Regions from separate parts of the Homo sapiens genome. Here region 2 is linked to region 1. The links come from fine-mapping of genetic effects on plasma protein levels. A gene starts in region 1. The other region holds a variant in brackets. All regions are shown on one strand. Distances are from middle to middle.

Evidence for each region. A credible set is the group of variants that fine-mapping cannot tell apart. PIP is the posterior inclusion probability: the model's chance that the variant is causal. Protein levels are from the aptamer-based SomaScan assay of Sun 2018.
Region 2: its variant is the best candidate, but not a certain one, in a credible set for the plasma level of the BLVRA protein (Sun 2018, PIP 0.59). The variant lies in the coding sequence of BLVRA. If it changes the protein, the assay may bind it differently, which can mimic a change of level.

What each region holds. Positions count from the first base shown.
Region 1 is chr7:43,757,447-43,760,355 of GRCh38, reverse strand. BLVRA (biliverdin reductase A) reads right to left here and starts at 1,676. Exons shown (of 8, transcript NM_000712.4): 1 at 1,622-1,676. It also overlaps the pseudogene LOC107986727. RefSeq lists silencers at 1,252-1,571, 1,582-1,971.
Region 2 is chr7:43,789,556-43,792,464 of GRCh38, reverse strand. It overlaps BLVRA (biliverdin reductase A), which reads right to left. Exons shown (of 8, transcript NM_000712.4): 4 at 1,097-1,216. Among named protein-coding and RNA genes, the nearest start is that of BLVRA, 32 kb to the right of the region's middle. The variant T/C (reference allele first, on the strand shown) is at 1,184.

The sequences.
Region 1 (2,909 bases):
ATTTTCAGTTCTAGAAAAAATGACTGGGAGTAATAAGCAGTGTAGATCAAAAACTAAATACAATTATAACAAAGATGAAAATTAATAGATGTGGCCCAAAGTGGCAAATCTTTGACTTTAATCACATGCTAACTGGATAGGCAGGGGGTACAAAGAATAAAAAAGTAAAGATCGGCCGGGCGCGGTGACTCATGCCACGCCTGTTATAATCCCAGCACTTTGGGAGGCCGAGGCGGGTGGATCACCTGAGGTCAGAAGAATTGCTTGAACCCAGCAGGTGGAAGTTGCAGTGAGCCGAGATCGCGCCACTGTACTCCAGCCTGGTGACAGGGCGAGGCTCTGTCTCAAAAAAAAAAAAAAAAAAAAATTACATATGAAATGTGGGAAAACACACTGAGAATTATTCCTAAAAAAGTTGAAGTATAATTAGAGACCCTATTGTAATTTTTAGCTCTCTGGCTACAGAATTTCCCTTCTGATACTTTGTCTAACATTTGACTTGTTTTTCTGGAATGCATCCCGTTAAGGGAAGGATGAGCATATTTATCAATACAATCTTTTAGGAAATAATTAGGAATATACCAATACCTTTATTTCCATAATTTTAATATCTTCTTGGGAATCGTACTATAGAAATTACATTAATGATGGAAAAACTTTCAGCACAGTATTGCTTCCTTTGTAGGTGGTGATGATGACAGCTAACATTTACTGAATCCTTCCCATGCTGAAAACCCTATTGTAAGCTATTTATGTTCGCTAAGTCACTTATTCTTCAGGGCTATCCTACTAAGTAAGCATTATGATTACCCCCACTTTTACAGGTGAGAAAATCGAGGCAACAAGAGGTTGGTTAACGTGCCCAAGATCAGATCGCACAGCGGTATAATAGGATGGAAAACTCCTATCACATAATGAACGTTAAGTGAAAAAAATTAGTATCCAAAACTGTAAGTCTGATGTCTCATTCTTTTTATAATTTAAGTAGTTTATAAATACCCTCATTATTAGCCATATTTCTGAGCACTTCATATGTAGAGTGCACTTTACAGAACACTGTCATGTAACCCTCACACCGTCTACGAAATAAGTGATAGTTTCCAGTTTCCAAAAACGAAAGCGGGGCTAGGAGAGGCCAAGTGCCTCGCGTGGCGCCTCAGGATTCGCCCCAGCGGAGCAGACCCCAGGGCATCCCAGGCGGGTCCCGGCCGAGCTAGCGGCCCTGCGGTGGCTACGCCCGGGCCCAGCCGCTCGCGCTCCTGGAGCCGCCGGACTACGCGGCACGCGGACGCCGAGCCTGCCCTCTTGGGTCTACATAAAAACCGAAACTACGGGCAGTCTTAACCGAAATGGAGACTTAATTTTTTAGACTGTCTTTTGTGTAGTTGAGAAAGCCCCTTGCCGGGACCCGCGCTGCTGGGCCTCCGACCGCGTCCTCACTCCGGGCCCGGGCGGGGCGGGGCGGGGCAGGCGGCGCCCAGGCTGCGTCCCGGCTCTGGCGGCCGCGGGCCCGGGCCTCCTGCGGGCCTGGGGCTTCGAGCTCAGGCCCTAGCGCTCTATGGAAGCCGCGCGCGACCCCCGCTCCCCTGCGCGCGACCCCCGTTCCCCGCGCGCGCCTCACCTGACGCGGGCACCGCTCTCCGTGCAGCCTCCGGGCGCCACCGGCTTTGCGGACCGGGGCGGGATCCCAGCTCCGATTGGCTGCCCGGCTGGGGGGCGGGGGCCCCGAAGCGGGGTGGCGGAGACCGGGAGGGGACCGGAGGCGGTGGGGAAGGGAGTGGACGGAAGGGGAGGGAGGGTCCCGGCCTCGTGCGGTCGCGCGTGAGATCCTGGCCTCTGTGCCCTGGGTCTGGCGCCTGGGGCCGTAAGAACCGTCCGTGCGCCTGCCCTGTTCTCTGCACCCAGCTTGGTGGCGAGGGGTGGGTGGTGGGTGCCGGCCGACCGGAGGGCGTATGGAAGTGGCTGGGCCCCCTCACGGTGTGCCTGGCCCCCTCACGGTGTGCCTGGCCCCGGCGTGGGGGGGGCAGGCCCGGGGGGTGTCGCATCTCTCTTATCCGCCCCCCACTCACCACGTAGAACCCACTGGATCCCATTGGTATTTAGTGGCCCCGGGCCGACTGAACTGGCGCCGAGGCTTACCTGAGTCCTTCCTGTAAATGTGAGGAGCGGAGGGAATATTCCAGGAGGCCGGTGTCTGCGATGTCCTGCTCTTGGGTAGCTAGGAAGTAGTGAACGTGGTCTAGGGAACTGCCTGGGCTCTTATCCACCTGGGAATGGGTTTGTTGGGGATCCTGATGTGGGAGAAGCCAGGGAGCTTCTAGCCTAGTGGGGCTAGGGGAGAAAACAGGGAGAGGGGTGGATTAGGCTGAAGGAAAGAGATCTCTGATCTTAAAGGCAGCGTTCTGACGGGTAAGGTTGACTGGCATTTTCCCCAACAAAGAGTTCTAGTACCGTATTCCATGACCTGACAAGCCTGTTTAAGTGAGGTTTTGTTGAGTGCAAAGAGAGAAGGCTTGGCTTTGAATTTTTATCTCCAGGCGGGACCTGCCTCCTGAACTCCATACTCCTCTATCCAGCTGCCTCCTTAATACCTCCTCTTGGATCTCTAAAATACATTTCAATCTCAACACATCCAAATCTGTGCCCCTGATCTCTTCCCCATAGCATCACCATCTCGATGGCAACTCCATCTTCCAGTTGTCAAGGCCAGAAACCTTGCTGTTTCAGAAACCTTTCTCTCACATCCCACCTCCAGGGCCCAAAAATTCTGTTGGTTGGATCTCCCTAGCATACCCAGAGCCTGACCACTTCTTACCTCTGCCTCCATCATCTGCTACCTGGGTCATGACAGTGGTCTCTTCCCTGATATCCCTGCAGCCTGTCCCCATAAAGCAGCCAGAGTGACCTTA
Region 2 (2,909 bases), 32 kb before region 1:
AACTAAGTACTATTTACCAATTACTGTGGAGGAGAAATAAAGACACATTAACAAATAAATTTCCTATCACCACATGGTAGCTATAAAGGCTACAAAACCCACAGCGGCTAGCTTTGCCTGAGGCAGTCTGAAAAGATTTCACTAAGGACCTATGAACTGGGTCTCAAAGTATGAGCAGACATTTTCCAGGTGCAACATGTGAGTATATTTCACTGTGAGCAGCGTATGCAGGGGCTTGGGCATTTGTGGGGCTTTGTTCAATCGGCAAACTTCAGTGTGGCAGGGGAGTGGACTACAGGCCGTGGAGGATAATAACGTTGGAAAAGTAGCTGGGGGCCTGACTGTGAAGGACCTACAATTCTGTGCTCAGCAGTTCAGATTTCATTCTGTGGATACCAGAGTACAAATATTTATAAGCATGGGACTTATGTCAGAATCACTTTTCTTAAGGAAATACACTCTGGTGCCAGAAAAGGTTAAGGAAAGCCAAGGAGAGGTGTTTTTGTCTACTCTAGAGCTAGACTGATAAAGAGGAAGCATCTTACCCGTGGGAAACAGCATGGTGGGAGCAGCTGTAAGAACCTAGAAGGAAGCTAGACTGAGGAAGGCAGCTGGCACTTCCCTGTTAGCTGCCAGGTCCTGAGGGTTAAAGGAACTCAACCGTTATTTTATGACATTGAAAGCACAAAGGAGAAAACGTTGGAAGCTGATCCAAACTGAGAAGGGAGTATGATAATTTGCCAAGGATGCCGGCTCCACATCCTAAACTGTCTGGTGAGAAGAAGGAGGCCACTACTGTTGAAAACTACTCTCGATGGGTTTTTACAGAGAAATAAAACACTTTAATTCTGAATGTTTCTAATGTTTCAAATTACACATACTAAATATTAATTTTACTATTTTTCACTTCCTTATATATTTATAACCAGCAATAAGAATTTCTTAATGTTTTGACACTTCTGTGATTGGTCACAGAGCAATTGTAATTTTCTCACTGGCTCTTCTGACTCCTTTGCAGGGTGTTTTAGCTTGCTTGCTCATTTTTGCAGTACTGCACTGCTGTGTAAGGCAAGGACTGCCTGTGTGGAAAACCCACCTGATGTAGTCCTCATGGCTGGAGCTCTCACTGCAGATATAGGCGACCTCCACCTCTTGGCTGGAAAGAGCATCCTCCAAAGAAATC[T/C]GCTGGACTCCATCAATGCTCCCGAGCTCCCTTCTATTTCAGAGTAACAGAGAAATGGAACTCAATGGTAGACAGAAGAAAGGAGCACCATCCTTCTCCCCTCCTCCCGACAGGTCCTGGTGATCTGCTGCCAGAAATGAAGAAATGAGTTTCTTCTCTCCCACTTCCAGGCTATTTTCCATTGTGGAGTGAGAAAAATAGCCTCAGAGTTCAAGTCAGGGGATCTGGCATTGAGTGCCAACAGTACCATTCACAGCGTGTATGACCTGGGAGAGTCTTGAATTACTTCATCTCCAAAACAAAAGAAACAGCTGGGCGCGGTGGCTCAAGCCTATAATCCCAGCACTTTGGGAGGCCGAGGTGGGTGGATCACTTGAGGTCAGGAGTTCAAGACCAGCCTGGCCAACATGGTGAAAACCTGTATCTACAAAAAATACAAAAGTTAGCCAAATGTGGTGGTGGGCGCCTGTAATCCCAGCTACCTGGGAGGCTGAGGCAGGAGAATCACTTGAATCCGGGAGATGGAGGTTGCAGTGAGCCGAGATTGCACCACAGCACTCCAGCCTGGGTGACAGAGCAAGACTCCTCAAAAATAAAATAACATAAAAATAAAAGGAACAATCTACTTTTATCTCATGAGAAGTGATCTCTATGGTCACTTCCAGTTCCAAGCACTTGGCCAAACATTGTGACTACCAAACCTAATCCAAATCCAATACGTTAACACATTTAGGGTGCAAACTGGCATGCGACTTCGAGCTACTTTATAGCTAAGCTAACGAAGCCCAGTAGTATGTACGCACACATGTTTGTGTGTGTGTGTGTCTGTGTGTGTGTTTGTGTGTGTGTGTGTGTCTTCCTCCCTCTGGCCGACTGAGCTCATTGGAAGGTGAGGAATTCGTTCTCCATGATTTCTCCTATAATGCCTAGCACATAATAGGCAGTGATAGCCTTGACTAACCAGGAGCAGAAGCAGGAGGGGAACCCAAGGCCTTCTGACTCTTCTAGAGCATGGGGGAGCTGCAGTCTTCGAAGAGCCAAAGCCCCAGCAGTCCGTACACCTCCCAGTGCAGCGGCTGGGGCAGGAGAGTAGCCCTCTAAGGGTGGCAGTCATGGGGGAATGTGGGACAGCTAGCAAGCAGAAGGCCCTCAGCCCGCTCAGAGCTCCAGCTGAGCTGCAGCAGGCAGAAAGCATTCAGGAAAATTTAGCTCCCAAAGAGTATTATGCTAGGTTTCTTTAATGGGGCCACCCAAACTAAATTGCTCAATTTCAGCAATACTTATTGTTTGCCTATTATGTACTAGGCGCTGTAGGAGAAATCATGGAGAACAAATTAAAATCATCGCCTTTCAATGAGCTCAGTCAGCTAGAGGAAGACACACACACACACACACACACACACACGTACATACCACTACCACAAGACTACCAGGAGAAATGTGGTGCTTGGAAGTAGGAGATGGAGACTCAGGGTGGGAAAGGAATACACCAGAAAAGCTTCCTGGGGAGGAGGTAGAACTTAGCAGGTAGGTCAGGAAGGGAAGGGTATGTGAAGAGGGAAACAGTGTGAGTACTGGCAGGGCTGTCATGCAGGGGTGTGACCTGGCCATCCTCCCATACAACCTGGGTAGTGTAGGTGTTCCCACTGAGCTGACCCTGGAAGCCAACTGGCAGAGGACTGGGGCTTAAGGGAAAAGGAAAGGTCCCATTTCAGCCTTGCGCCCA